4 linked regions of the Homo sapiens genome follow. The protein of the gene in region 1 interacts with the protein of each later gene in a biochemical or structural test. Each region holds a gene or a part of one and is shown on either strand. Other genes may lie near its edges.

Region 1 (7,025 bases):
TCCAGCCTGGATAATAGAGCGAGAGTCTGTGAAAGAAAGAAAGAAAGAAAGAAAGAAAGAAAGAAAGAAAGAAAGAAAGAAAGAAAGAAAAAGAAAGAAGGAAGGAAGGAAGGAAGGAAGGAAGGAAGGAAGGAAGGAAGGAAGGAAAGAAGGAAGGAAGGAAGGAAGGAAGGGAAAGGAAGGGAGAGAAAAGAAAGAATTGTAAGACATGGACCCTGCCCTTAAGTAACTTGTAATCTAGAGAAAGAGACCTTGAACTTCTTGGGCTCCGTCTATAGGTAATGAATTGAAAACTGTGCTAACCATGAGTCTTACAGAGCAGAAGATAATTGGGTGTCAATGTGTGTGGGAAAGACTAAATATGTAGCAGGCATAGGAAATGAGGCTCAGCAGAAAAAAACAAGGCTTGATGCAGATCAGGGCAATCAAGAAATGCTTCATGGAAAAAGATGGCTATGATGTAGGCACTGAAGAACTGGTAGAACTCATACAGGTTTGGGGGAGAGAAAACCCAGCTGGACGGGCACCTAGCACAACTGGAAATGCAGGGGCGAGCATGAGCAGGTCATGTTCCCAGGCCAGCAGCAATGCCAGCATGCCCAGAACAGAGGCTGTGTCCAGAAGCACTAAGACATGAAGTCTGAAAGTTAGGAAGAGGCCAACTTTAGTTTGGACGTGGTCATCAGTAGGGGCCGAGAAAAGTATCTGGGCAGGAGAATGGCATCACAGAATCACTGGAAAGTTAGCAAAGTCCAGTCAGGCTGAGCTACGTGCCTGTAGACACCATGGTGTGGCTGGCAGAAACAGGTCTCCCTAACTCTGGTCCCCAGGTGAGCAGGAAAGACAAGACACCTAATCTTGGGCTCCCCAAGCGAGGGCTTACCCCCATTGCCTTCCCTGGATGCTCCCTGCCCCTTCCTCTCCCACCCTGCCTGACCTGGTAGGGTCTGTGCAGACACCCACTGTGGGAGGAGAGTTGGCAGCTGTTTGGGCAGGTGAGTCAGTCACCTGGGTGTGGTCTACTCCCAGGCTCCCTGTGGAGGGAAGCACCATCTCTTGCAGTAGCGCTCGCTTTCCTGCCATGCCTGTGGCATTGGCTGTCCACTCCCTCCCAGCATAGGCTCTTCCTCACCCCACAGCAACTTCTCTCGTCCTCCCCCTACCTGAGGGCCTGGGCCAATGGACCTTTCTCAAAGCCTGGAACTCACCCACCCTGGGCTTCTGGTTCCTTTCTCTGCTCTTGTGAAACTCCCCAGTTCTGTGGGCAGATGCCCTGGCAGCAGCAGCACCAAGCAAGTAGCTACAGGCCAAAGGCCCTGGTGCCCACTCCTGCCGTCAGCACTCAGCAAGCCACAGCCAGGAGGTCTGTTTGCCCAGCCGCCGTGCCAGGCACCTTTGCTCCCAGCATCCCCTCCACCCCCACAGCTGCCCCAGCACAGGGAGGCAGGCAGAAGCCTGCAGGTGGTGGTGGGGCTCTCTATGGCCCCACACCCTGATTAGTGGCTGGAGAGAACTTCTAAGATTAGAGCTGCAAGGCCTCACCCTTTGGGGCCTTCAAGAGGACTTGAAAACTTCCATGGACAGAAATGTCAAGGCTGTACATGCTGGAGGAGGGGTGGTTTTGCAGAGAACCAAAGAGGTCTAGTCTTTCTATATTCCACAGTCCCATGTCTGGAAACCTGGATGTGGAGACAGCCACATAGAGGAGTCCTCTCCACATCTCACTTCCAGCGCTATGAGAGCTCTGGCATCCTCTCTTCACCCTGATATCTTCTTCAGGATCATGGAACATCAGGGTAGGGAAGAGAAGAGAACTAACATTTAGTGAGCATCTGCTCTGGGCCAGGCATGCATCCAGTTCTCAAATCAGTTGATCCTTTGAGGCAGGTATTATTACTTCCCCCACCTGCATGTCAACACACACAGACACACACACACACACTTTATGGAGGAAGGTACAAGAAAGGAACCTTGGAAGAACTTACATGGTCCAAATCTCTCATTTTACAAACAAAAGAACAAAAGCCCAGAGAGTTTGCCCAAGGTCCCACAACTTGTTCTTGAGAACCCCGACTCCCTAAAGCCCAGATCATCCCCCCTCTCAAATCCTCTTTTTCTTCTTCTTGCATGTGCCTTCCTTTTCACCATAGCAAACCCAATTTTTCTTCACACAGTGGAGTGGGAGTCTCCGTGGCAGGAGGACCCCCGAGGGAGCCCCGAGTGTTAAAGCCCCTCCTATCTTGGACCTTTACCCCCAACCGCAGGAGGAAGGTTTCCTGGAGGAGCTGCTGGCCAGCCCTCCTGACTCCCCTTCCCACCCCACAGTCATTCTGACAGATGAGGAAGTGCAGAGGAAGCGGGAGATGATCCTGAAGCGGAAGGAGGAGGAGGCCTTGAAGGACAGTCTGCGGCCCAAGCTGTCTGAGGAGCAGCAGCGCATCATTGCCATACTGCTGGACGCCCACCATAAGACCTACGACCCCACCTACTCCGACTTCTGCCAGTTCCGGGTATGTCTGCCTGCTGGGAGGATGAGCCGGTCCAGAGGAGAAGCACTAGTGGAGCCAGGGCCCAGGGAGTAGGGACAGAGGGCAGGGGACATCCTGAACAGAACTGGGGTAGGGACGGAGGCTGCTCTGCCCCTGGCACTGGGAGGCTTCGCCTTCCTGTAGACCTTCCTCAAAGCCATTCCTATCAGAGATCAGGGCCAAGGTAGGAAGGCAACCCCAAAATGTGGGTCTGAGACCCCATCTTTCCCTTCCAGCCTCCAGTTCGTGTGAATGATGGTGGAGGGAGCCATCCTTCCAGGCCCAACTCCAGACACACTCCCAGCTTCTCTGGGGACTCCTCCTCCTCCTGCTCAGATCACTGTATCACCTCTTCAGGTAAGCAGGACTTCAGTCCTCCATAGAGTAAGGGAGCGGGGGCGAGGAGTCCACCGCACCTGCCCTGGGGCTGCTGGATGGAAGGAGGTGGAAGGCTCCCTAATGGAAACTTACATAAATACTGTGCGCTATGCAGCGTCTTCACAACAGCCCCTCTGTTACAGAAAGGGGTGACTTACCCAAGGGCCCACACTGGGGAAGAGGCCAAGCTGGGATTCCAGCTGTGTAGCATCAGCCTCCCGGGCCCATGCTGTTTCCTCTAAGCCAGGCTTCAGCCCATGGCCCCCTCCGTGGAGGTGACCTGCTTCCTTTACGTGATATTTTAATCCTGGGCCCTTCAGAAGGTGAAATTTGGAGTGGGAAGGTGAACGTGTTGGTCCTATTGAGGTCCACCTTCCACTTGAGCTCTGGGGACCACTCTGGCCCTGGAGGACCTGTCCCCTCCAGCTCAGCTGAGAGTCTGGGAGGCATCATGCTTTCCTTCCTTTCTTTTTTTTTTTTTTTTTAAAAAAAACACATATGTATATTTAGAAAAGAAATTGTGCTGTATACAATCTGATGACTTGCTTTTTTTTATATGGCATTGTTTTTCCATACCAGTTAGTACGCATCCAGAATATAATTTTTAAGGGCTGCATAGTATTCTGGAATACAATAATGTACCTAATCCCCTACCATTGGATATCTGGATTATTTCTCAGCATTTTAATAAGAAAACAGTATACTTGTAGCCAAATATTTACACTTATCGGAAATTTTCCCTTACAATGAATTCCAGGAAGTGTGACTACTGGTCAAAGAGTACACACAATTATTTGACTAATGTCAAATAGCTTTCTAGAGTACCTTCAGTAATGTGCACCTCCTTTAGCACCCCAGCCCTCATAGGCATTGCCTAATTTCCTGCATCTTTATAAATACTGGCATCAATATTTAAACATTTTTGTTTCTGGTTTGTAGGTGAAAATTATAGATGTTCTACACTGCAGTTCTTTGACCATTAGCAAGGTTGAACATTTTTTTCCATGACTTGATGGGTCCCAAATTCTTTCTTGATTGAGATCCATAGGAACAGCACACAGTCTGCTTGAGGAAGTCTCATTGCTCTGAGTGTCTCTGGCTCTTTGATTTTACTGCCTTATGCTGCTGAAAGAGGCAGAGAGAGTCCCAGAGGGAAGCCTGGGGCTGAAGGGTGACCTGTGGAGTCACTGTGGGATTCCCAGCTGGCTCTGCTGCCAGGGCACACCAGGTTTTTGCAGGGTCTGGCAGGAGGGGGCCTGGTCCAAGTATCCTTAAATAGCTCCTTCTCTTCCCTCATCTCTCCCAGACATGATGGACTCGTCCAGCTTCTCCAATCTGGATCTGAGTGAAGAAGATTCAGATGACCCTTCTGTGACCCTAGAGCTGTCCCAGCTCTCCATGCTGCCCCACCTGGCTGACCTGGTCAGTTACAGCATCCAAAAGGTCATTGGCTTTGCTAAGATGATACCAGGATTCAGGTAAGAAACTTCTGCAATCTCTGGGGAACAGAGTCAGAGTCCTAGACTGAGCTACAAGAAGGGTTGGAGATCACTCATCCACCACTTCTTTTTTTTATTTTTTATTTTTTTAAACGGCATCTTGCTCTGTCACGCAGGCTGGAGTGCAGTGGCGCGATCTCGGCTCACTGCAACCTCCGCCTCCTAGGTTCAAGCGATTCTCCTGCCTCAACCTCCCAAGTAGCTGGGATTACAGGCACCAGACACCACGCCCGGCTAATTTATTTATTTATTTATTTATTTATTTATTTTTATTTTTTTTCCAGACAGATTCTCGCTCTGATGCCCAGGCTGGAGTGCAGTGGCACTATCTTGGCTCACTATAACCTCCGCCTCCCGGGTTCAAGTGATTCTCCTGCCTCAGCCTCCTAAGTAGCTGGGATTACAGGTGTGGGCCACCAAGCCCGGCTAATTTTTATAATTTTAGTAGAGACGGGGTTTCACCACGTTGGCCAGGCTGCTCTCGATCACCTGACCTCGTGATCCAACCACCTTGGTCTCCCAAAGTGCTGGGATTACAGGCATGAGCCATCGCGCCCTGCCCTAATTTTTTTATTTTTAGTAGAGACGGAGTTTCGCCATGTTGGCCAGGCTTGTCTCAAACTCCTGACCTCAAGTGATCCACCCACCTCAGCCTCCCAAAGTGCTGGGATTACGGGCATGAGCCACAGCAGCCAGCCTCCATTGCTTCTTTAAAATAGAGATTCAGACCCTACCCTAGACCTGCGAAATCAGAATCTCTGGCGTAGGCCCAGAAATCTGTATTTAGAAAGTGCAGCCTGTCTTGCGTTACTCTGCAGGCCAGCACTGGAGAGCTAGTCCATCCCCGCACTTTCTGGATGATGGTGTGGAAGCCCAGAGAGGTCCAATGGCCAGCCAGGATCCCTTCCAGGTGTTGGAGCCAGCATGTCAGAGCCAGGCCTAGAACTCCCAGCTCACTGCTGTGTTCACTCCAGCTGGCTTGACTGGAATCCTCATATTATCTCTTTAAATTCAACGATATGATTCCTCCACACCCCAACTCTGAGAGCAGAATGAAGTGATAGAGAGAAGGGCTTGGCCATGTAGACTTGTGAAACAGTCTAGGAATCCTGGAGAGAGATAGGTTTACTGGCATATATGACCCTGGCATCCTTCACCAAAATGTACATTTAAAGACCATTTCCTGGCTGGGCACAGTGGCACATGCCTATCCCAACACTTTGAGAGACTGAGGTAGGAGGATTGCTTCAGCCCAGGAGTTCCAGACCAGCCTGATCAACATAGTGAGACCTCTTCTCTACAAAAAAAAAAAATTATAAATTAGCCAGGTGTGGTTGCACATGCCTGTAGTCCCACCTACTAGGGAGGCTGAGGCAGGAGAATCACTTGAGCCCAGGAGGTCAAGGCTACAGTGATCCATGATTTCACCACTGCACTCCAGCCTGGGCAACAGAGCAAGACCCTGTCTCAAAAAAGAAAAAAATAAAGACCATTTCCTAACCATACTGATACATTTTTGCCAAAATATATAAGTATAAGGAGTTCTACTGGAGAAGGGATCCTCCTTTATCAATTCATTCATATAAATTTCATTCATTTATTCCTATGTTTCATTGTTTTAACACTAGTACTGTATATAATACTTATATTTAAATACTCATGCAGTGTTAATTTTTTTTTTCTTTTTTGAGACGGTTTCGCTCTTTTCACCTAGGCTGGAGTGCAATGGCGCGATCTCAGCTCACTGCAACCTCCGCCTTCCAGGTTCAAGCAATTCTCCTGCTTCAGCCTCCCAAGTAGCTGGAACTACAGGAGCGTGCCACCATGCCTGGCTAATTTTTTGTATTTTTTTTGAGACAGAGTTTCCCTCTTGTTGCCCAGGCCGGAGTACAATGACGCGATCTCAACTTACTGCAACCTCTGCCTCCTGGGTTCAAGCAATTCTCCTGCCTCAGCCTCCTGAGTAGCAGAAATTACAGGCACGCACCACCACGCCTGGCTAGTTTTGTATTTTTAGTAGTAGAGTTGGGGTTTCACCATCTTGGCCAGGCTGGTCTTGAACTACTGACCTCAGGTGATCTGCCAGCCTCAGCTTCCCAAAGTGCTGGGATTACAGGCATGAACCACCACGCCCGGCCAATATTCTTTTTTTTTTTTTTTTTAATTGAGGCAGAGTCTCGCTCTGTCGCCTAGGCTGGAGTGCAGTGGCATGATCTCGGCTCACTGCAAGCTCCGCCTCCCGGGTTCACGCCACTCTCCTGCCTCAGTCTCCCGAGTAGCTGGGATGACAGGCGCCCGCCACTACGCCCGGCTAATTTTTTTGTATTTTTAGTAGAGACAGGGTTTCACCGTGTTAGCCAGGATGGTCTTGATCTCCTGACCTCGTGATCCGCCTGTCTCGGCCTCCCAAAGTGCTGGGATTACAGGCATGAGCCACTGCCGGCCAATATTCTTAAAACAATAGAGTATTGACACATTTAATAGATGTGTTGGGAAATGGCTATATTTATGTATATTTGTATCTTCATTCTTCCCCAAAGTTCATTTGGTATATTGCCATAAAATACATAAACAATATGGTTGAGAAAGAGAAGTAAATCAATCTCAAGCAATGTTATTG
Region 2 (7,025 bases), about 48 Mb from region 1:
GAAAATTCGAGCTAAACCTACATTTAAGAAAGAGTAATAAAAACGAAATAATTATCCAGTTTTTGGTAAATTAGTGAGTGACAGTGGCATTGGCCAGGAATTGATTTTTTTCTCATCAGTGTTATAATGAAACTACACTGAACGTAAAGATGTTATTTGAGGACCTGCTGTAGTTTTCTAATTTTGAGCATTTTGCCTGTTACTAAGTTTCTTATTGTAAGTAATAAAATGAACTTCTTTTATAACCTTTTCCTTCTTTTAAATTTCCTAGACTTGACTCTTAGGAATGTAATTACTGGGTTAGAATTTAATATAAGCATTTTATGACTCTTATTACTATTGTGTTTTTCAAAGGAATTATACCAGGCTACAGATTTCCATCTCTTAATGAGTGTTAAAATATTTGTAGTTGATGAGAATTATGCTTTTTTGGAGGATAGGAGGAATGTGTTAAGATTACTAGGAGCCTGAGGAAATGGAAAATAAATACGAATCTGGACAATAAAAGTAGGGAATTGCATGTGATATAGCTCTTTCTGCCTACAAATGATTCTGTTTTGAAGCCAGTGAAAATATTCTCTGATTAGAGAGCCTGCCTAACAAGTCAATCTTGCTAGACAAGTAGGACTGGAAATTATTTCAAAATTGTTTCAAAGCTGCCAGTAGTTTAACAAGAAAATGCACTGACAGTATTGATAATTAAATTTGTTTGCCTTTATTTACTTTGTTAAAATGAGTTTCATAAAACTCTGTTGTTACAACTGATCGTCAAGTTTTGTTATTCTACTTATACATGAAGAGGCTTTCCAGAGAGAAGTAAATTAATTTGTGTAGGACTTGCCCCAGGGAATGAATTACGAGGTGATAGGAAACTAATACTTTAAGAGTGTTTACCTTGTGCAAGGTACCAGGTTAGGCACTTTCATATGTTATCTTATTTAATCCGTAAAACAGCAAAATACGGTTGGTAGTATTCTCATTTTTCAGAAAACGGACGTTCTGAAACTTGTACCCCATATTAACAGTCTAAAAGTACAAGAGCCAGGCTTTGTACCCAGGTTGCTTGATTTCAAGGCATGCCATCTTTGTACCGCACCCTACAGAAGAGGCCAAAGTACTGTACTGATGTACATGATCAAATATGATAGCACTTTGCCCATTTCACACTTGAGGAATGTTTGCATGGAAACCGCCAGGGGCCCCACATTTTAGGAAACTGTTTATAACTGATAACTTGGGAGAAAGATCCCACAGCCTTGAGGATTTGGTATTTTGGGGGGTATATTGCAGTGACTCTTTTCAATTAAATGTTTGTCTTGTACAGGTGGCAGTTTTCAAAGAACGGGAGCAAAAAGAGATTGAAGCCATGCATTCTCTCAGAGCAGCCAACCTAGCCAAGATGACAATGGTGGACCGCATAGAAGAAGTAAAATTTTGCATTTGCCGCAAGACAGCCAGTGGGTTTATGCTACAGTGTGAGCTCTGCAAAGACTGGTTCCATAACAGCTGTGTTCCTCTTCCTAAATCAAGTTCCCAAAAAAAAGGATCCAGCTGGCAAGCTAAAGAAGTAAAATTCCTTTGCCCTCTTTGTATGCGGTCTCGAAGGCCCAGGCTAGAGACTATTCTGTCACTCCTGGTATCCCTTCAGAAGTTGCCCGTACGGTTGCCTGAAGGAGAGGCCCTGCAGTGTTTGACAGAACGTGCTATGAGTTGGCAAGATAGAGCGCGGCAGGCTCTAGCCACAGATGAACTATCCTCTGCCCTGGCCAAACTATCTGTGTTGAGCCAGCGTATGGTGGAACAGGCGGCTCGAGAAAAAACTGAAAAGATCATCAGTGCAGAACTCCAAAAAGCAGCTGCCAATCCAGACTTACAGGCAAGTTTAGGATTTACATTCTTTTTCTATTTCATGGGATATGTCAGTGTATAAATAGTAAATTGAGTCTGTCTTACCAATTGATTAGGAAAATAACAGTAACTTGTCAGCAATTATCCATTGCATTCTCCTTCAACATACACTATAGCACTTTTTTTGGATACGTACTTAGTGAAATATTCTTGGTAATATCATTCAGGTGGACTTTGGCATCATAATCAAATAATTTGATTTCTACTAACTGTTGAAGAACTCTGTTAGCCACTTTGCTTATTCATTACATTTTGGTGATCTTAAGCACACATTAATTACCCTGTCTGTTTAGCATGTCTTGCTGTTCATCTTGGAATTATTTGTTGTTTAGGGACACTTACCTAGTTTCCAGCAGTCTGCTTTTAACCGGGTGGTGAGCAGTGTGTCATCTTCTCCTCGACAAACAATGGACTATGATGATGAAGAAACAGACTCTGATGAAGACATTCGAGAGACATATGGCTACGACATGAAGGTAGTTACATGGACAAGCTGTGTGGGTACATACCTGATCATTGGGTTTGTTTAAAAAAAAAAAAAGCTATTGAACAGTGATGTTTGAGGCCTGAAAGTGAAAGAGAAAACTAATCATTTATCTGTTCTGAGTTTTTAGTCGTAGCATTTTTTCAAAACTCAAAACATTACAGGTTGCTGAAACAATTTTTTTTTTTTTTTTTGGAGATGGAGTCTCGCTCTGTCACCCAGGCTGGAATGCAATGGCGCGATCTCTGTTCAGTGCAACCTCTGCCTTCTGGGTTCAAGCAATTCTTGTGCCTCAGCCTCCCAAGTTGCTGGAATTACAGGTGCATGCCACTCTGCCTGGCTAATTTTTGTGTTTTTAGTAGAGATGGGGTTTCGTCATGTTGGCCAGGCTGGTCTTGAACTCCTGACCTGAAGTGACCTGCCTGCCTCGGCCTCCCAAAGTGCTGGGATAACAGGCCTGAGCCACCACGCCAGGCCTGAAACAATTTTTAAAAAATAGAATTAAAAAATCTGTATTTGTTTTACTCATCTTATAATCCCTTATGGCTTAGAGGAACTAGAAAAACAATATGTAAAGCTTTCTTGGCCAATTTCAGTTTTTCAGATTTTTTTCTTTGAGTTGTGAAAGTCTGTATACAGTTAAGTTTTAAGAATTCCATTCTAGGCTTGGTGTGGTGGCTCATGCCTGTAAACCTAACAATTTAGGGGAGACTGAGGTGGAAGGATCACTTGAGCCCAGGAGTTTGAGACCAGCCTGTGCAACATATTGAGACCCCCATCTCTACAAAAAATACAAAAATTAGTTGGGTGTGGTAGCACACACCTGTAGTCCCAGCTACTTGGGAGGCTGAAGTGGGAGGATTGCTTTGAGCCTAGGAGGTCGAGGCTGCAGTGAGCCATGATTGCACCACTGCCCTCCAGCCTGGGCAGCACAAGACCTTGTCTCAAAAAAAAAAAAAAAAAAAAAACACTTCCATTGCTAGAGTCTTTTGCTCTGCTTTCTCGTCTGGATGGTGCTAGATAGAATGTCACATTCGGAGATGGGTAATATAATACTTGGGCCCAGGTTAGAATTTGCTGAGTTCCAGTTGCAGATACAACAAATTATTTACCATCAATGTGATTATTTTGGTAATGACACGTTACTGGTGGTGAAGAGAAGGTTTTGACAAGTTTGTTTTGTGTTGGATCCAGTTGGCTTTTCGTTAGCCCTTTTTGTCAGGTGCAAGCCCTTTGCTTTTTAACCTAGTAATAACAATGTGATTAGGCAGAGACCCTGCCAGATTACAGTCAATCCATTGACTTGTTTTATATGATTCTTAGTTGCTTTGTTTAGAATCTATTCTTGTAACCTGGGAATTCCTACTCTGATACAAAAGGCTGCTTCCAGAGAACAAGGGGAGATTCTGTTCCTACCCCTTCACTATCTTTTATTTGTCTTTTCAGCTTGCAGATCAGCATGGTACTGCTCATTAATCTCATCAGCATTAAAACTCCTAGGATATAAAATTAAAACCATCCATCATAGACGCTCGTAGATTCCTCTGCTGGGAAATATTTTTTCTCAAGATAGAAATGGGAATTTTCAGTTATGTGACTTAAAGACTTGAAAACAGTTGAAACTTGAATTAGACTGTTCAAATAATCTTTTTTTATATTAAAATATCTTATTATATGGTAGATTATTATTTTTCAGTTTTGAAAGTTTTGTGAACAGATGGCCAAGTTTTGTTGCACTGATTTTCAAGGGCTGATTGAGGGCCATTATTAAGAAAAGAGGCATTACAGTTGCGTACAGTTCTTGAATATCATCTTAGTGTACTGCTAAATCCCATTATGAAGAATTCATTGGCAGTCTGCTGAAAGGTACACTAGCTTATACCACACACAGCGGTACATTCTTAAGCACGTTGTTATCCAGAAGTTAATGACTATCTTTGTTTACGAAGTTGTATATAGGGTGACTAAGAGCAGCTGAAAAGAAATGCAACCCATGCCAAGTATAATTAGCTTTTTCCTTGAATACTGGAATCACCCGTTTACCCTAGTTAGAGGCCTTTGATATTTTTGGTGGTTGCTTTCTAGCACATTAGCTATCAGCCACTCTTCTAGAATTGCTTAACATGATGGGCTTTGCTTGAAAGCAGACTGGTAACCTATGAAAACATCACAAGTATTGATGATTTTCAGGACTAGGGATCACAACTGCAGTTTCATATGGTTGGATGGAGTAGTCTTTTTGTGGAGGAATTTATATGAGAATCTTAGCTTACTGTCTCTTTGGTAGTGGGTATTGGCAGGGTAGAAAAATAAGATTATGGATTTTCTAGTGTTAGCAATGTATTTGACAGCTGAGAAGAATGGTGGCAAGACTTATGGTAATTCAAGTTCAAATTTACTTTGCAGTCAGATGCTCTACCACTGAGCTATATACCCCTGCCAATTTACTTTGATGTTGATATCTTTGAATGAAAAAAAAAAAAAAAAAAAAGCCTATACTCTTGAGCATTTTCCCACAGAGCAAGCGATAATTGTATAATGAAAATTTTATTTGCCGGTTTATTTGCATTTGACCTGGTGGTTTTTTCCTTTGTGTGATGTCCTCTGTTGTGACCATAAATTCATAACTTAAAATACTTTGAACTTAGTATTCTTGCTTGAGGAAGAGCCCCCTCTTGGTTTAGGAGGAGGGGTAGGTAATTATTTAGTAAAATAAAATCAGTCATTTTATCTTAGTTACCATCCAGAAAATCATTACTTACGAGGTACATATTTAATGAAGCAAAGTCTGTCCTGCATCTTTTGGGATTGTGTCTATGTAGGTGAGCTTGTGGAAACTAATTTCAAGGAGAATCATAGACCTAATCAGAGCTCACTTAACATTGCAAGGACTTTAAGTGTAACAATGAGATTAATGGGCAGTACCAAGCTGATCTGCAAGCTGAACTTATTTTTCCCCCTCATCACTGTTATAATGAAATGAAAACAACTTTATTCAAAGACCTGCTACTATACTTCCTTTTGCTTAAAGGCAGTTTCTAAGAACCTACCAATGACATTACATGAAGACTTACTGTAATCTATATATTGTCAGTCAGACATATACTTGTATTAAGAGCAATTGGTAAGATTCTAGGTTTGAAAACCTGTAGAGAGGATTAAATGGTTTGTGTCCTTAGGCTGTCACATCTAAATTTATCTTCCCCTCCTTAACTTGTTGGTATAGGAGTTATTATAGGTTGTAGACTATAGAAGGTAGATTACTTAACCATAATTTTTTTTGTATTATACTTTAAGTTCTGGGGTACATGTGCAGAACGTACAGGTTTGCTACATAGGTATACACGTGCCATGGTGGTTTGCTGCACCCATCAACCACATTAGGTATTTCTCCTAATGCTATGCCTCCCCTAGGCCTGCACCCCTGGACAGGCCCTGCTGTGTGATGTTCCCCTCCCTGTGTCCATATGTTCTCGTTGTTCAACTCCCACTTATGAGTGAGAACATGCAGTGTTTGGTTTCCTGTTCTTGTGTTAGTTTGCTGAGAATGATGGTTTCCAGCTTCATCCATGTCTCTGCAAAGGACACGAACTCATCTTTTTTTATGGCTACGTAGTATTCCATGGTATATATGTGCTGCATTTTCTTCATCTATTCTATCATTGGTGGGCATTTGGGCTGGTTCCAAGTCTTTGCTGTTGTGAACAGCACTGCAGTAAACATATGTGTGCATGTGTCTATAGTAGAATGATTTATAATCCTTTGGGTATATACCCAGTAATGGGATTGCTGGGTCAAATGGTAATTCTAGTTCTAGATTCTTGAGGAATTGCCAGAGTCTTCCACAATGGTTGAACTAATTGACACTCCCACCAACAGTGTAAAAGCATTCGTGTTTCTCCACATCCTCTGTAGCATCTGTTGTTTCCTGACTTTTTAATGATTGCCATTTTAGCTGGTGTGAGATGGTATCTCATTGTGGTTTTGATTTGCAATTCTCTAGCGACAGTGATGATGAGCATTTTTTCATATGTTTGTTGGCTGCATAAATGTCTTCTTTTGAGAAGTGTCTGTTCATATTCTTCGCCTACTTTTTGATGGGGTGGTTTTTTTCTTGTAAATTTGTTTAAGTTCTTTGTAGATTCTGGATATTAGCCCTTTGTCAGATGGATAGATGGCAAAAATTTTCTCCCATTCCGTAGGTTGCCTGTTCACTCTGCTGATAGTTTCTTTTGCTGTGCAGAAGCTCTTTAGTTTAATTAGATCCCATTTGTCTATTTTGCCTTTTTTGCCATTGCTTTTGTTGTTGTAGTCATGAAGTCTTTGCCCATGCCCATGTCCTGAATGGTGTTGCCTAGGTTTTCTTCTAGGGTTTTTGTGGTTTTAGGTCTTACCTTTAAGTCTTTAATCCATCTTGAGTTAATTTTTGTGTGAGGTGTAAGGAAGGGATCCAGTTTCAGCTTTCTGCATATGGCTAAGCCAGTTTTCCCAACACCATTTATTAAATAGGGAGTCCTTTCCCCATTTCTTTTTGTCAGGTTTGTCAAAGATCAGATGGTTGTAGATGTATGGTGTTATTTCTGAGGCCTCTGTTCTGTTCTATTGGTCTGTATATCTGTTTTGGTACCAGTAC
Region 3 (7,025 bases), on another chromosome or scaffold:
TAGGAACATTTATGTTTTATTCCCAGATTAAAGTTGATTGGGGTTGTTATGTTTTGTGTAGTTTTTGGAGGCATTTCCCTTTCTTAGAGTATCATGTGATTTATGGTGATAATTAGGCAGAAACTTGTCTTCCCTACAGATGCCAAGATTATAGAGGGACTTGCTCTCACCAGAGACCAGATGACAGCATCCGTAGATATTTTTAGAATGGACCTCATCATTTATTTGGTCTCCCCATTTCATTTTCTTTGTATCAGCAATTGATTTCAAACTTGTTTATTGGGCAGGGAGGGGAGAGAGGGCGTCTTCCCTTATTAATGAAAGTCACTGATGGGACAGAACAGCATCTTTGTATTTATTGTTAATTGGCATATTGCCTAGTACTTGCAGAGTAAACTACAATTCCATCAGCTGTAGCTTCATTTTCTTTTCAAAAGTTTTGCTTAATCTGATGTGTTTTCTTACAGCATTTTAAAATTTTATTTATTTATTTTGAGACCGGGTTATGAGACTAGTTTTTGTATTTTTGGTAGGGACGGGGTTTTGCCATGTTGCCCAGGGTGGTCTCCAACTCCTGGTCTCAAGGGACCGCCCCCCTCAGCCTCCCAAAGTGCTGAGACTACAGGCATGAGCCGCCATGCCTGGCCCCTTAATCCGATGTGTTTTTAAACTAGAAGAGCATCGACACATACACATAAATCTCACGGTTAACTAAATAACCGTATAACTAAAATGTCATACTTTAAACTATTTAAGAATGACATGAGCTTTCTTAAAACCCATGAAACTTGTACCCAAGCTAAGTATCATTGACTTTCCCAGCTCAGTAGCTGGGTTTCATCACTTAATATGCTCCCTCTACTCTTTCTGTCCTTGATTGAATCAGATAAGCATGTACAAACATTGAGCCACAGGAGAGCCATTAAAAATCTAAGACAGATGAGCTGCTGCTTTCCTTTTGATTATTTTTATTACCCCAGTTTTCATTGTAAATGGTGATTCTGGTGTTCCTCTGAGAAGGTTAATTGTATTTCTGTTCAACATTTATCTTCTATATTTTCAGTGTTTTACAATCTGTTTTCCTTCTGTCACAGAGGAAACCAAAGGCCTTTCTGTTCTCTGGAGTGGGAGTTTCTGTATTAAATTTGTCCTCTGCAAGAGTTGCCTCTATACCTGGGCCAAATCCTCTACCAATTCAGCCTATAAGCACCAAGGTGGTTTCCTGAGCAGGCCTCCCTGGGAGGGCATTGCCTGGGGGACCTCAGCGGAAGCTGTAGAACATAGCTTCACAGGTGACCCCAACCCCAATCTGCAGAAAGGGAAAGTGGTGATTCACACATCTCGTTTTTAATAATGGAGTTCTCTGAAGATTGGGGCCTTTTGATGAAGGAATGGATATTAAGCCTGGGGACTGTGGTTGGTTAGTGCTTTAGACTGTCCCACATGGGCCTCCTACTCCTGGCTTTGGGGTGATGGCCTGTTCTGCTCAAAATTGTGCTCTGTTAGGGGCTCATGGGTGTCCTCTGTCCTCTTTCCTGCTGTGTTGGCCCAGCCCACATTGGAGCAAGCCACACTCCCTGTCTCTGTACTTGGGGAATGAAGTGTGTCACCTTCCCATTATGCACTGGCTTCTGTGGCTGCATAATTAATACCCAAGGGAACTGGAGAGAGATCTGAATTAGGTAGTACTTTACAGCTTCTCCCTCGGCGCTTACAGTAAGTCAGGATGGGGACTTGGGGATGGGAGTCCCCTGATGACTGATCACATAGTGATGTTGGATGGTGGTTTATTAAGTGTTATTGTGAGGGGAAAAAACCAAATCCTCTTCCAGAGGACTGTGCCTGTGAAACGCTATCTAATCATTCATACTTTGCAGGGCAAGGTAGAGTAGTTAGAATAGCACTGACTTTAGCAAGCTACGGTCTTCACAGATGCTGAGATCTAGTATTTACTTCAGCTTTTACTCCCTCTAGAATCAACAAGCCATTATTTTATAGTCCAAGGTAATATTATCTAGTAGCTTTACAAAGCAAAGAATGCCCCAAAAAACCATCAGCCAGGGAAACTAAAACCTAGGGATAGACAGGAAGAAGAAAGAGGCTTCTTTTTATACTTTATTGTCCCTACCTCCAGTAAAACAACCTAAATTCTTCAATTTGGAGCTTTAACAAGGATAAGTAAATATGACCATGGGCATGTAACATTGTAAATACTAAGTCCTGCTGTGTTTGCAAACATTGAGAGTGAAAGGTAAGATTGCCAGCAAGTGCAGAGTCACAGAAGAGATTGAAGTTACAGTACACTCATGAGAATTCCTGATGACCCTACGGTACAACCTCTAAAGGTGGGAGAAGCAGATGTATATAATGTGATTTTGTGTGTGAGTTTTTTGATGCTTTTTTCATTACTTATTTACCTTGTCTGGAGAGAAAAGCACGAGTTCATGTTGTTTCACTACCACTTTTCTATCCATTTCTTGGCCTAGAGCCGTTTCTTTACTACCATAACTGCCAACACTATCTCCATAAACAAAGAATCTTATGTCTGGAGGTCTGTCATGTCACGTCCTTTTGCTATTAAGACAGCTCTATGAATATACTTTTTTTTTTTTTTTTAATCCCTTAACTTTTCTGGGCCCAGTGGTCACATGACATCTGATAAGACTTGTATAAATTCAGATGCTCTAAGAGCACCTTTTTTGTGCCTTTCCATTGAAGACAAAATAATAATTGGAGGCAGAATAATAATAATGTTGTTGATTGTTAATGGGGTGTTTTATGGGGGATTTCTTGTCCATATATGTGTTATGTAATTTTTTTTCTCCAAATTTGTAATACAAAAATCAAATTCCTAAGCCAGGTGCATTGGCGTGCCTGTAGTCCTAGCTACTCAGGAGGCTGAGACGGAAGGATCTCTTGAGCCCAGGAGTTCAAGTCCAGCCTGGGCAACATAGCAAGACCCCATTTCTTAAATTCTTTTTTTTTTTTTTTTTTTTTTGAGACGGAGTCTCGCTGTCGCTCAGGCTGGAGTGCAGTGGTGCGATCTTGGCTCACTGCAAGCTCTGCCTCTCAGGTTCACGCCATTCTCCTGCCTCAGCCTCCCGAGTAGCTGGGACTACAGGTGCCCGCCACCGCGCCCGGCTAATTTTTTGTATTTTTAGTAGAGACGGGGTTTCACCATGTTAGCCAGGATGGTCTCGATCTCCTGACCTCGTGATCTGCCCTCCTCAGCCTTCGAAAGTGCTGGGATTACAGGCGTGAGCCACTGCGCCCGGCCCATTTCTTAAATTCTTAAGATGGCCCGCTTAGTAATTACTTACTCTTTTTATGGTGGGGAATAGGGGAGTCAAGATTACCCACACCCAGCACTGCAGACTTATTAAGGCCTTTATAGAAAGTGGCCATTTCATCTCCACTGGTGTTGGGGTATTCGTGGAAAAGGGTGGTAAGCAATTCAGTTAGTCCACATAGCCAGTAGGGAAGAACCAGAAAAGTATAACTCATCTACTTAGGATGAGCGGCTCTCCTTGTTTTAGCATGGAAAGTCCCATGTCCTAGGAAATCCCTCAGTCCGGAAGTCTAGAACAGAATCTTATCTGCACCTTGAACATCTAACTAAAAAGGACCCACCAAAACACCCCTAATATGGCTTTCTTTATCTCCCAAAGTGAATGATCCCATTCCCTTTGGGCTTTTCAACTTCAGAGCATTTTGTAATAAGGACAACATGAGAAATAAGGTAAGTAATCTTTGTGCTTTGTCCTTAGGATTTCAGACCTTTGAAACTGGTGTAGCAGAGCAGCTTTGCTGTGCTAGCCCTGGGCTCTGAGGTGGGTGAGGGAGATGGAAGGCCTTGACAGGTGGCCCTCAGGTGCCCACTATTGCTGTTGCAGTGCCCTTAATGATCTCTGGTTTTCTTTTCTCCTCCTTTAGACCCTCAAACTGACACAAGACCTACAGAGAAAACCCTTTGCCAAATCTGCTCTCAGCAAGTGGACAGTGATACCGTTTACAGCTTAACACCTTTGTGAATCCCACGCCATTTTCCTAACCCAGCAGAGACTGTTAATGGCCCCTTACCCTGGGTGAAGCACTTACCCTTGGAACAGAACTCTAAAAAGTATGCAAAATCTTCCTTGTACAGGGTGGTGAGCCGCCTGCCAGTGGAGGACAGCACCCCTCAGCACCACCCACCCTCATTCAGAGCACACCGTGAGCCCCCGTCGGCCATTCTGTGGTGTTTTAATATTGCGATGGTTTATGGGACGTTTTAAGTGTTGTTCTTGTGTTTGTTTTCCTTTGACTTTCTGAGTTTTTCACATGCATTAACTTGCGGTATTTTTCTGTTAAAATGTTAACCGTCCTTCCCCTAGCAAATTTAAAAACAGAAAGAAAATGTTGTACCAGTTACCATTCCGGGTTCGAGCATCACAAGCTTTTGAGCGCATGGAACTCCATAAACTAACAAATTACATAAACTAAAGGGGGATTTTCTTTCTTCTTTTGTTTGGTAGAAAATTATCCTTTTCTAAAAACTGAACAATGGCACAATTGTTTGCTATGTGCACCCGTCCAGGACAGAACCGTGCATAGGCAAAAGGAGTGGAGCACAGCGTCCGGCCCAGTGTGTTTCCGGTTCTGAGTCAGGGTGATCTGTGGACGGGACCCCAGCACCAAGTCTACGGGTGCCAGATCAGTAGGGCCTGTGATTTCCTGTCAGTGTCCTCAGCTAATGTGAACAGTGTTGGTCTGCTGGTTAGAAACTAGAATATTGATATTTTCAGGAAAGAAATCAGCTCAGCTCTCCACTCATTGCCAAATGTCACTAAAGGGTTTAGTTTTAAGGAGAAAGAAAAGGAAAAAAAAAAAAAACAAAAAAGTCCTGTTTTGCTTTGCAGAACAAATGAACTTACAGGTGAGCATTAAGCTTGCAGTGAGAAATGTGCGAAGAGTAAAAACCCAAGTCAATGCTGAGGCAGTTCTAACTTCACTGTTTTCCTAAATACACATCCTTGATTATTTTCAGCCTTGCTATATAATCTGATCTGCTAGAAGTGTATGAGTGAGAGGCAATAGCATACAAACTGATTTTTTAAATATAAGCTTAGGTTGTAATTGTACAAGTGACTCAATGGAAGTACAAAATAGGGCAGTTTTAACTTTTTTTTCTGCTTCTATGGATTTCATTTTGTTGTGTTTTCAAAAAGTTATGGTGCTGTATAGGTGCTTTCTGTTTAACCTGGAAAGTGTGATTATATTCGTTACCTTCTTTGGTAGACGGAATAGTTGGGACCACCTTTGGTACATAAGAAATTGGTATAACGATGCTCTGATTAGCACAGTATATGCATACTTCTCCAAAGTGATATATGAAGACTCTTTTCTTTGCATAAAAAGCATTAGGCATATAAATGTATAAATATATTTTATCATGTACAGTACAAAAATGGAACCTTATGCATGGGCCTTAGGAATACAGGCTAGTATTTCAGCACAGACTTCCCTGCTTGAGTTCTTGCTGATGCTTGCACCGTGACAGTGGGCACCAACACAGACGTGCCACCCAACCCCCTGCACACACCACCGGCCACCAGGGGCCCCCTTGTGCGCCTTGGCTTTATAACTCCTCTGGGGGTGATATTGGTGGTGATCACAGCTCCTAGCATAATGAGAGTTCCATTTGGTATTGTCACACGTCTCCTGCCTCGCTTGGGTTGCCATGTTTGAGCGATGGCCCTGTTGATTTCACCCTGCCTTTTACTGAATCTGTAAATTGTTGTGCAATTGTGGTTATAGTAGACTGTAGCACATTGCCTTTTCTAAACTGCTACATGTTTATAATCTTCATTTTTAAAGTATGTGTAATTTTTTTAAGTATGTATTCTATTCATATGGTCTGCTTGTCAGTGAGCCAGACTTGCTTACTATATTCCTTTATAATAATGCTAGCCACTTCCTGGATTCTTTAGTAATGTGCTGTATGCAAGAACTTTCCAGTAGCAGTGAAGGAGGGTTGCCTCTCCAAGCTTCCTAAGGGATGCTGCCCTGTGTGGGGATGCATTGCAGAGGCACTAGTAGCATGGGGGCTAGAGTGGGGAGCGAGATGTAAAAGGGTGGGGGGATAGGAGAATTCCAGAGTGCTTCCAGCATTAGGGTCCTGAGAACTTCTGAGTTCAGAGAAACATGCAAAGTGACTAACAAAATAGCTACTTACCTTTGCAGTTTTACAGACCCTGGGAGCTGCTTTGGGAGTGAGAAAGGCAACCCTCCAATGTGTTTCAACTTTAAAATGTTGAATTCTTTTCAGACATGGTATCTCATTTATTCTCCTTTTCTAGCGTTTGTTGAATTTCAGGCAGAATGTCTTACAGAATGTCCTAGAACCAGATTATCATTTAATCTGAAACAGCTGAGGAAGGGACAGAGAAGGTACAAGGGCAAGGCAGCACAAAACAGATCAGGAGAATGAAGAGGGAATGCTTTGGTTTTTTGTTTTGTTTTGTTTTTTCTTTTTCAAGTAACTAAAACAGCATCTACATGTAGAGTGTTGTGGAGAGCTGAGACCAGGGTAAAGTCAAGTGCAGCATCAGTACTGCGAGACCCACCAGCCCCTGGAGAGGGTCAGCCGAGAATCTGGTAGTGAAGCCTGTCTAGGGTCCCGGCACCCTCACCCTCAGCCACCTGCAGAGAGGCCAGGGCCCCAGAGACTAGCCTGGTTCTGAAGTGGGCAGGGGTGCTGCCAGAGCCCTCTGCCCCTTATGTTGAGACCCTGCTTTCAGGACAGGCCAGCCGTTGGCCACCATGTCACATTCTGAGTGAGTGTCACAGGTCCCTAACAATAATTTTCTGATCTGGAGCATATCAGCAGAATGCTTAGCCTCAAGGGGCCTGGCAGCTGTAATGTTTGATTTATGATGAGAACTATCCGAGGCCACCCTTGGCCTCTAAATAAGCTGCTCTAGGGAGCCGCCTACTTTTTGATGAGAAATTAGAAGAGTACCTAATGTTGAAAACATGACATGCGC
Region 4 (7,679 bases), on another chromosome or scaffold:
ATACCCAGGAGTAGCTTTCTGGGTCATATGGTAATTTTTTGTTTAACTTATTGAGGAGCTGCCAAGCTGTTTTCCACAGCAGCTGCACCATTTTACATTCCTACCAGCCAGCAATCACCTTTAAACATGAAAAACATGAAAGGTTTTAAATGATATTTCCCAATTTTCTAAGTAAACATATGAATTATAGAATCATTGGGAAGCATAAGAGAAAAAAGAAGAAATACCTACTCATAATCCCAACTGTGTAAAGGTAATAACTATTAACATTCTATTTTTATTTATTTATTTATTTGTATTAAAAAAATTAAGACAGGGTCTCACTATGTTGCCCAAGCTGGTCTCAAACTCCTGGGATCAAGCTGTTGTCTCACCTCAGCCCCAAGTAGCTGGGATTACAGGCATGTGCCACCATGCCTGGGCTTCTATCATCATTTATTTTCTTTTTTTTTTTTTTGAGATGGAATCTTGCTCTGTCGCCCAGGATGGAGTGCAGTGGTGTGATCTCTGCTCACTGCAAGCTCCGCCTCCTGGGTTCACGCCATTCTCCTGTCTCAGCCTCCTGAGTAGCTGGGACTACAGGCGCCTGCAACCACGCCCGGCTAATTTTTTGTATTTTTAGTGGAGACGGGGTTTCACCGGTTTAGCCAGGATGGTCTCGATCTCCTGACCTCGTGATCCGCCCGCCTCGGCCTCCCAAGGTGCTGGGATTACAGGCGTGAGACACAGCGCCCGGCCCTATCATCATTTCTTTATGTCTCTTTTCTATATGTTTTTTCTTTTACATAGTGGATATCAAATTTTATATCACAGTTTTGTGGGCTGATTTTTCCACTTAATATTCTAGCACTGGGCTGGGCATGGTGTCTCACGCCTGTAATCCCAGCACTTTGGGAGGACAAGGTGGGTGGATCATTTGAGGTCAGGAGTTCGAGACCTGCCTGGCCAACATGGTGAGACCTCCCCCGCGCCGACCCGCCATCTCTACTAAAAATATAAAAATTAGCTGGGTGTAGTGGTGTGCTCCTGTAATCCCAGCTACTCAAGAGGCTGAGGCAGGAGAATCGCTTAAACCTGGGAGACGGAGGCTGAAGTGAGCTGAGATCGTGCCACTGCACTCCATCCTGGGTGACAGAGTGAAATTCATCTCAAAAAATTAAAGTAATAATAGTAATAATACATAAATATTCTAGCATTAGTATCATCTCATCTCATCAGAACTCTTCAAAATATTTGTATGTACTGCAGCTCAATTAGAGGTGGTCTCTGACTTTCATCAGCTTCTCCCTGGGCTCCATGACACTGGCCTGGAGTGACTCATTGCTCTGGTTGGTTGAGAGAGCTCCTTTGCCAACAGGCCTCCAAGTCAGGGCTGGGATTTGTTTCCTTTCCACATTCTAGCAACAATATGCTGGCCACTTCCTGAACAGGGAGGGTGGGAGGAGCCAGCATGGAACAAGCTGCCACTTTCTAGAGTAGCCAGACTTGCCCCTGGGCCTGTCAGCACCTACTGATGACCTTCTGTGCCTGCAGGATGGAATGTAGGGGTGAGCTGTGTGACTCTATGGTACAGACTGGTCCAGGTTCCTGGAGGTCACACTCTGGGGCTGCCAGCCAAAGGGTGCCCTTAAGTTGGAGTGTGGGTGACTTCCTGAACAGAGCTGGCACTGGGGAGGGGGTGCTCGGGGTCCTTTCTCTTCTAACAGGCCCCAGTTTTGTCTCAATGACAGTGTTTCTACACCTGTGGGTTATGACAAAGACAACTGCCAAAGAATCTTCAAGAAGGAGGACTGCAAGTATATCGTGGTGGAGAAGAAGGACCCAAAAAAGACCTGTTCTGTCAGTGAATGGATAATCTAATGTGCTTCTAGTAGGCACAGGGCTCCCAGGCCAGGCCTCATTCTCCTCTGGCCTCTAATAGTCAATGATTGTGTAGCCATGCCTATCAGTAAAAAGATTTTTGAGCAAACACTTGAATATGTGTGTCCTTTTAATTTATAATTTATGTATGCATTGATTTAATACACATTATAAAGAATACAAAACATTTAAAAAGGGAGACAAAACTACATATGAATGGCCGGGCACAGTGGCTCATGCCTATAATCCCAGCACTTTGGGAGGCCAAGGCAGGCGGATCATTTGAGGTCAGGGGATCGAGAACAGCCTGGCCAACATAGTGAAACCCCGTCTCCACTGAAATACAAAATTAGCGTGGTGGCAGGCACCTGTAGTCCCAGCTACTCGGGAGGCTGAGGCAGGAGAATCACTTGAACCCGGGAGGCGGAGGTTGCAGTGAGCCAAGATCACATCAGTGCACTCCAGCCTGGGTGACAGAGTGAGACTCCGTCTCAAAAAACAAGCAAACAAACAAACAAACCCAAACCCAAACAAAACAAAACAAAACAAAATACATATGAATAAAAGTTCTATTTTTCCTAAACTCTATAATAGGTCATTGTGCATCCCTTACTCAGGGGACCACTGCCACTCTTACTGTTTCTGATGTCTGCACTCTGCTGCCCGTGTCCTGCTGTCTGGTGAACGATGAAAAAAATGTGTGTCTTCAAGCTGGAATTAGATCCCTTCTTTTCTTTACGGTGTTCCTGTTTATCCCTCCTTCCTCTTCATCAGGAAGTGTCTTCTATGATGTGTCCCCCACATTCCTCTGTGTTTGCTTGAGGTCAAAGCAGCTTAGAACAAGAAACAGCTTAGAACAAGCCTGTAAAACAGCTTAGAACAAGCCTGAAGAAAGTGCCCCCAAGACCACATGCAGCCCGAGGGGAATTAAAGGCCAGGGGCTCTGCCTTGCAGATGGAGAGTGGCCTGGGTGCAAGGCCCCAGCATCAGCTACCTCTTGCTACACACAGACCACCGAAAACTTAGTGGCTTAAGACAACGACAACATTGATTCTCTTTTAACTGTTTCTGTGTTAAAGAACATCTGTTCACTCAACAGGTCTGTACTGAGCACCTGGGCCAGGCAGTGCTCTAGACCTGGGGATACAGCAGTGAACCAGAGAGATTTCAGGAGAGAACCCTGTTCTCCTGGGGCTTGGACTCAGCTGTGTGTACGTGACAGATCAGAAATGAGCAAACAGTCATCTGTTGAACAATCAGTGGGCAACTGATAAAGAGCTTTATTTTCCCCTGTCCCCTATCTGTTTAAACATGCTATGTGGGCCAGTTGAGCAATCTAGACAGGTCCCTTAGCTTTCTTGTTCACCTTCAGATAATTTAAAAAAGTGGTCTGAGTTACATTTTGAGTTACACAAAGTCTCATTCCAGGGGCTGCATCTGAATTGAGAGGGAATGGGGGACAGGAGAGTTAAGGGCTCCTTCTGCCTGAGGTCATGTTCTAGGCTGACTTCCTCATGGGACTTTTGTGGGCTTCTCTCTCCACAGCTCCCCTTCCACTCACAGCCTATGACTGTTATCTTAGCTTCTGCATCGTAATCTATGTCTCCTATTGTTTTCTAATGAGGTTGCCTTGCCCCTTGTAGCAGAGTCACTCTTGGATGAGATCCATAAAACCCTGCTATGATCACCTCCTTTGCTGCGGAATGTGGGGAAGCAGTTGGCAACTGAGTATGGAGGACCTCTGTCAAAACTGAGACAGAAAGAAGTGCTATTTAACATCTAGTCACAAGTAAATAATGTGGGTTATAATCTGGGCTGTAGGCTGGACGTGGTGGCTCATGCTTGTAATCCTAGATCAGGTGGGAGGATCGCTTGTGCCCAGGACTTTGAGACCAGTCTGGGTAACACAGCAAGACCCTGTCTCTACAAAAAAATTTAAAAACCGGGCATCATGGCGCATGTCTGTAATCCCAGCTACTCAGCAGGTTGAGGCAGGAGAATCGCTTGAACACAGGAGGCAGAGGTTACAGCAAGCCGAGATTGCGCCACTGCGCCTGAGCGACAGAGTCAGACCCTGTCTCAAAGAAAAAAGAAAAGAAAAAAAGAATCTGGGTTCTGCCATTTATTTATTTACTCAATTTTTTTTTTTTTTTTTTTTGAGACGGAGTCTTGCTCTGTCGCCCGGGCTGGAGTGCAGTGGAGCGATCTCGGCTCACTGCAACCTCTGCCTCCCAGGTTCAGGCAGTTCTGCCTCAGCCTCCCGAATAGCTGAGGCTATACGCGCGAGCCACCACGCCTGGCTAATTTTTTTGTATTTTTAGTAGAGAAGGAGTTTCACCGTGTTAGCCAGGATGCTCTCCATCTTCCGACCTCGTGATTCGCCCGCCTCGGCCCCCAACGTGCTGGGATTACAGGCGTGAGCCACTGCTCCCGGCCTATTAACTCAATCCTTAGAAAAACAAATGTGGCAAAGGTGGAATCATACAACATATGGCCTTTTGTGTCTTACGATATTCATTTTTGCATCTGAATGTTCAAACTAAATAATATCTACCTTGTGAGGCCATCTGAATCACTTAGGATGGTCCTTGGCACCAAATTTGCCTTCAAAAAAGCATTTGCTTCATTTAATTTCGATTTATTCACGAAGGACTAAAGGACACTGCAAGGGCGGGGAGGGAGTGTGCGCCTGCGCTCTGCGCCTCCTAGAGGGCAGTCAAGGGCTTCTGGCTGACCCGAGCGGAGATCTCGCGAGACTGTCAGACGTATGGCGAGAGGTGTGGGAGGAAGATTGTGTTGTCGCGAGAACTCTGCCTTTGGGCCGTAGGTTAGTGTGGGGCCGTGTCTCAGTCCACCCAAGGTCTCCTCGGATCGCCTGGAGAGGCACTCGGACCTGGTAAGAACGCTGTGGGCCGGGTGGAGGCTCGATGACCGCTGGCCCGCTGGGCCCGGGCTTGTCCGCCCCTTCCCGACCCGACCGACACCGGGACCGGTCTGCCTTCTCCTTCCCTTCCCTCCCCTCCACACGCCAGGCCCGGGCACCTCTTCCTGCCTGCCCGCCGGGCCCGGGCCTGTCTTCTCCCCTTCCGGCCACACGCCGGGCCCGGGCCTACGTTCTCGCCTTCCCGCCACACGCCGGGCCCGGGCTTGTCTTTTCCTCCCCGACCCTCCTCGTGCCCGGCCGTGGGCCTGTCCTTTCCTCCCCGACCCTCCTCACACCCGGCTCGGACACCTCCTGCTCCCCGCCGGCCTTCCCCTCTCTTTAGGTGTGACAGCTCCAAGTTTCCTGTTTCTCTCGCCTCTTGCTTGGATGTGGGGCGAGGCGAGGTCTGTTTTGCCGGACGGGCACAGAACATAATCCATTTCTAGCTTGTCAGGTGGAAATGCAAAGAAGATATTGGGTTTTTTTGGCCCTCTGTGTGCCAAACACATACTGTCACATTTAATTCTCCCAATAATCCCGAAAAGTAGCTTGATTATCTCTGTTTTACAGCTGAGAAGAGTAAGGCTTGCTCATTCATTGGTTCATTCCACCAGCAATCATTTATTTGGTGCCTGTATGTTCAGGATGTTGAGGATAGCAATGAAAAAAATGGACACCTAATTCTCATGGAACTAAATTCTTGTTGTGGGGAAAACAATAATCATAATCTTACGTGGCACGGGATTTAACATGGAATGATGCCATCAAGAATGGCAGAAGTAGAATGACAGAAGTCAGAGTGCTGAATTTATCTGACCCCAAAGGCAGAGCTTTTTTACTTTTAACTGTGCCTTTTTGTGTCACTTTCTAATCAGGGTCGGGTTCACCACAGTAATTGCCTTTTGGATGGACTTAGCTTTCCACCACGCACTTGGTAATTTGGAACTAAGTTTATAGAGACTCTTGAGTTACTTATTGGAATGAGGATGGCACAGGAAGTCATAGTTGGCCCATTTTTATACCGAGATCCTAGTGTGACATTTCCAAACTTTAAAGTACTTGAGACCGTTTGAGAAAGACTTACCCTAAGGATGCAGTGGCTTAGGCAATTTACTTGGTTTTCTCATTTGAAGATTTGCTAGCTTGCAGATTTGTTCAGATAAGTAAATGAGATTATGTATGTAAAGTCCAGCACAATAACGTTCCTTTCATTTTCTCCTTTCCTGCCTTCCAGGGAGCCTTTGTCCTTGGGTCTCTAAGGAAAATCCTACTCTTTGAAAGTTTTGTGGTAGTTTTTATCTAAATAAATCTCTACAATTACATTATTACCTTTGTGCAAACAGGCATTTCGGAAATGGAAAAACATGTTGAGCTATGGAAGGGGAGGAAGATGTCCTTCTCAAAGGGAGAGAAGATATTTTAGAACTACATAGTACCCCTCACCCCCCCCTTTTTTTTTTTTTTATTAAATCAGTATAGCTGTGCCAGAATCTCAGGATCCGGTGTAGGGGTTTCATAAAACTCCATAGGATATCCTGACACATATCCCTCCCCCGGTTGAGAGTCCCTAAGTTAGTGTTTTATAATACTTTCCCTCACATAGTGTTAGCATTCAGAGCCAGTCATTGCTGCTGCTGATGGACTTTGAACTCAGTCTCTTATTTCAAAGAATTAGTATTTTCTGCTTGGTTGGTGAATCTATGACACGAGTTCTCCTCTAGGTGGCAAGCTCACCATTGTGTTCTCAGGGACTATCACAGTAGTGTCAGTTTAGGTACTCAATAAATAGTTGTTGGATGAATACATAATACCTTAATACTTAATGATTCCTTCAACATACCAGGTGTGGTTAGGGACTTTGGACTCAGATCTGGGATTAAATCTTGGCTCTTCTACTTGGGAGTTTGTGACTGTAGGTAATATATTTAACCTTGTCAAGTCTGCTTTTTTTTTTTTTTTAATTAATGGTGATGATAATAGCCACTTTAATGAGGGCTAATTGAGATAGTGAGTTTTTTAAAAAAAGGCTCGGCACATAGTAGACTAGATGTAAATACTTACTGAATTCATTTACTCAGTAATTAATTGTTGAACACCTACTATACAACAGTGAACAAAAAGACAAAGTCCCCGCCATGTGGAACTTACCTTCTAGTATGTTTTCTGAAGGGAGATCAGAAAATAAATGGTTGCTACGTGCCAGACTGTGGTTAGTACTATGGAGAGTAATAAAGCATATTAAGGGGGATTGGAGGCAAGACTTTTAAAAATAAAAGATGGTGAGGAATGGCCTCAATGAGAAGATGACCTCTGAGCAGACACCTGAAGGAAGTGAAGGCCTGGGCTCGAGGATACCTGGAGGAAAGCGCAAGGGCCCTGAGGCAGAAGCATCCTTGTTAAGCTAAAGGAGCAGCAGGAGGAGAAGAGTAAGGGTAGAGGGGAAGAGTAGGTAGCAGTCATGAGGTTTCTGCAAGAGTCCTGGAGAGAGATGATGGTAATGAAATTGATGAACTTTATGTCTTTCTTTGTTATATCCTGTTCTTTGACTAAAAGTAATAAAAATAGGTAATACTTCTATAGCTCTTAATGTGCATCAGGCACTATTTTAAGTGCTTTACATATATTAGTCATCAGATCTTTCCAAGAAAGTATACCTAGCCTCAGAAAATGAAGATTTGTCACTCTTTAGGATATACAGTGGAATGTGCTGCTGGTTCAGAGAGCACTTTCTCAAGCAGTACTGAAATCAGCAGTGAATTCACTGCCTCTGTTCACATACTGGTTAGGTTGCAAAGGCAAGCCTAAAGTGTCGATAACAGACCACCCAACCAGTATGTATGCATTGGGTTAAGTTCAGTTTCATGGAAGAACTGTAGAAGGCCATGGCATTTTTTAT

The links.
Region 2: the proteins of VDR (region 1) and KDM5A form a complex in vitro, tested with the Homo sapiens proteins (one study listed by BioGRID).
Region 3: the proteins of VDR (region 1) and FOXO3 form a complex in vitro, tested with the Homo sapiens proteins (one study listed by BioGRID).
Region 4: the proteins of VDR (region 1) and NCOA4 form a complex in vitro, tested with the Homo sapiens proteins (one study listed by BioGRID).

What each region holds. Positions count from the first base shown.
Region 1 is NC_000012.12:47,852,989-47,860,013, reverse strand, and holds part of VDR (vitamin D3 receptor), read left to right. Parts: intron 1-2,325; coding exon 2,326-2,510; intron 2,511-2,764; coding exon 2,765-2,885; intron 2,886-4,212; coding exon 4,213-4,384; intron 4,385-7,025.
Region 2 is NC_000012.12:302,305-309,329, reverse strand, and holds part of KDM5A (lysine-specific demethylase 5A), read left to right. Parts: intron 1-1,324; coding exon 1,325-1,876; intron 1,877-2,240; coding exon 2,241-2,384; intron 2,385-7,025. UniProt on the Homo sapiens protein: Histone demethylase that specifically demethylates 'Lys-4' of histone H3, thereby playing a central role in histone code. Does not demethylate histone H3 'Lys-9', H3 'Lys-27', H3 'Lys-36', H3 'Lys-79' or H4 'Lys-20'.
Region 3 is NC_000006.12:108,675,894-108,682,918, forward strand, and holds part of FOXO3 (forkhead box protein O3), read left to right. Parts: intron 1-3,933; coding exon of another isoform or gene 3,934-4,020; 3' UTR 4,021-7,025. UniProt on the Homo sapiens protein: Transcriptional activator that recognizes and binds to the DNA sequence 5'-[AG]TAAA[TC]A-3' and regulates different processes, such as apoptosis and autophagy.
Region 4 is NC_000010.11:46,027,603-46,035,281, reverse strand, and holds the start of NCOA4 (nuclear receptor coactivator 4), read left to right. Parts: upstream 1-4,658; 5' UTR 4,659-4,756; intron 4,757-7,679. Other genes in the region: MSMB (beta-microseminoprotein isoform a precursor), read left to right, coding at 1,731-1,860. UniProt on the Homo sapiens protein: Cargo receptor for the autophagic turnover of the iron-binding ferritin complex, playing a central role in iron homeostasis. Acts as an adapter for delivery of ferritin to lysosomes and autophagic degradation of ferritin, a process named ferritinophagy.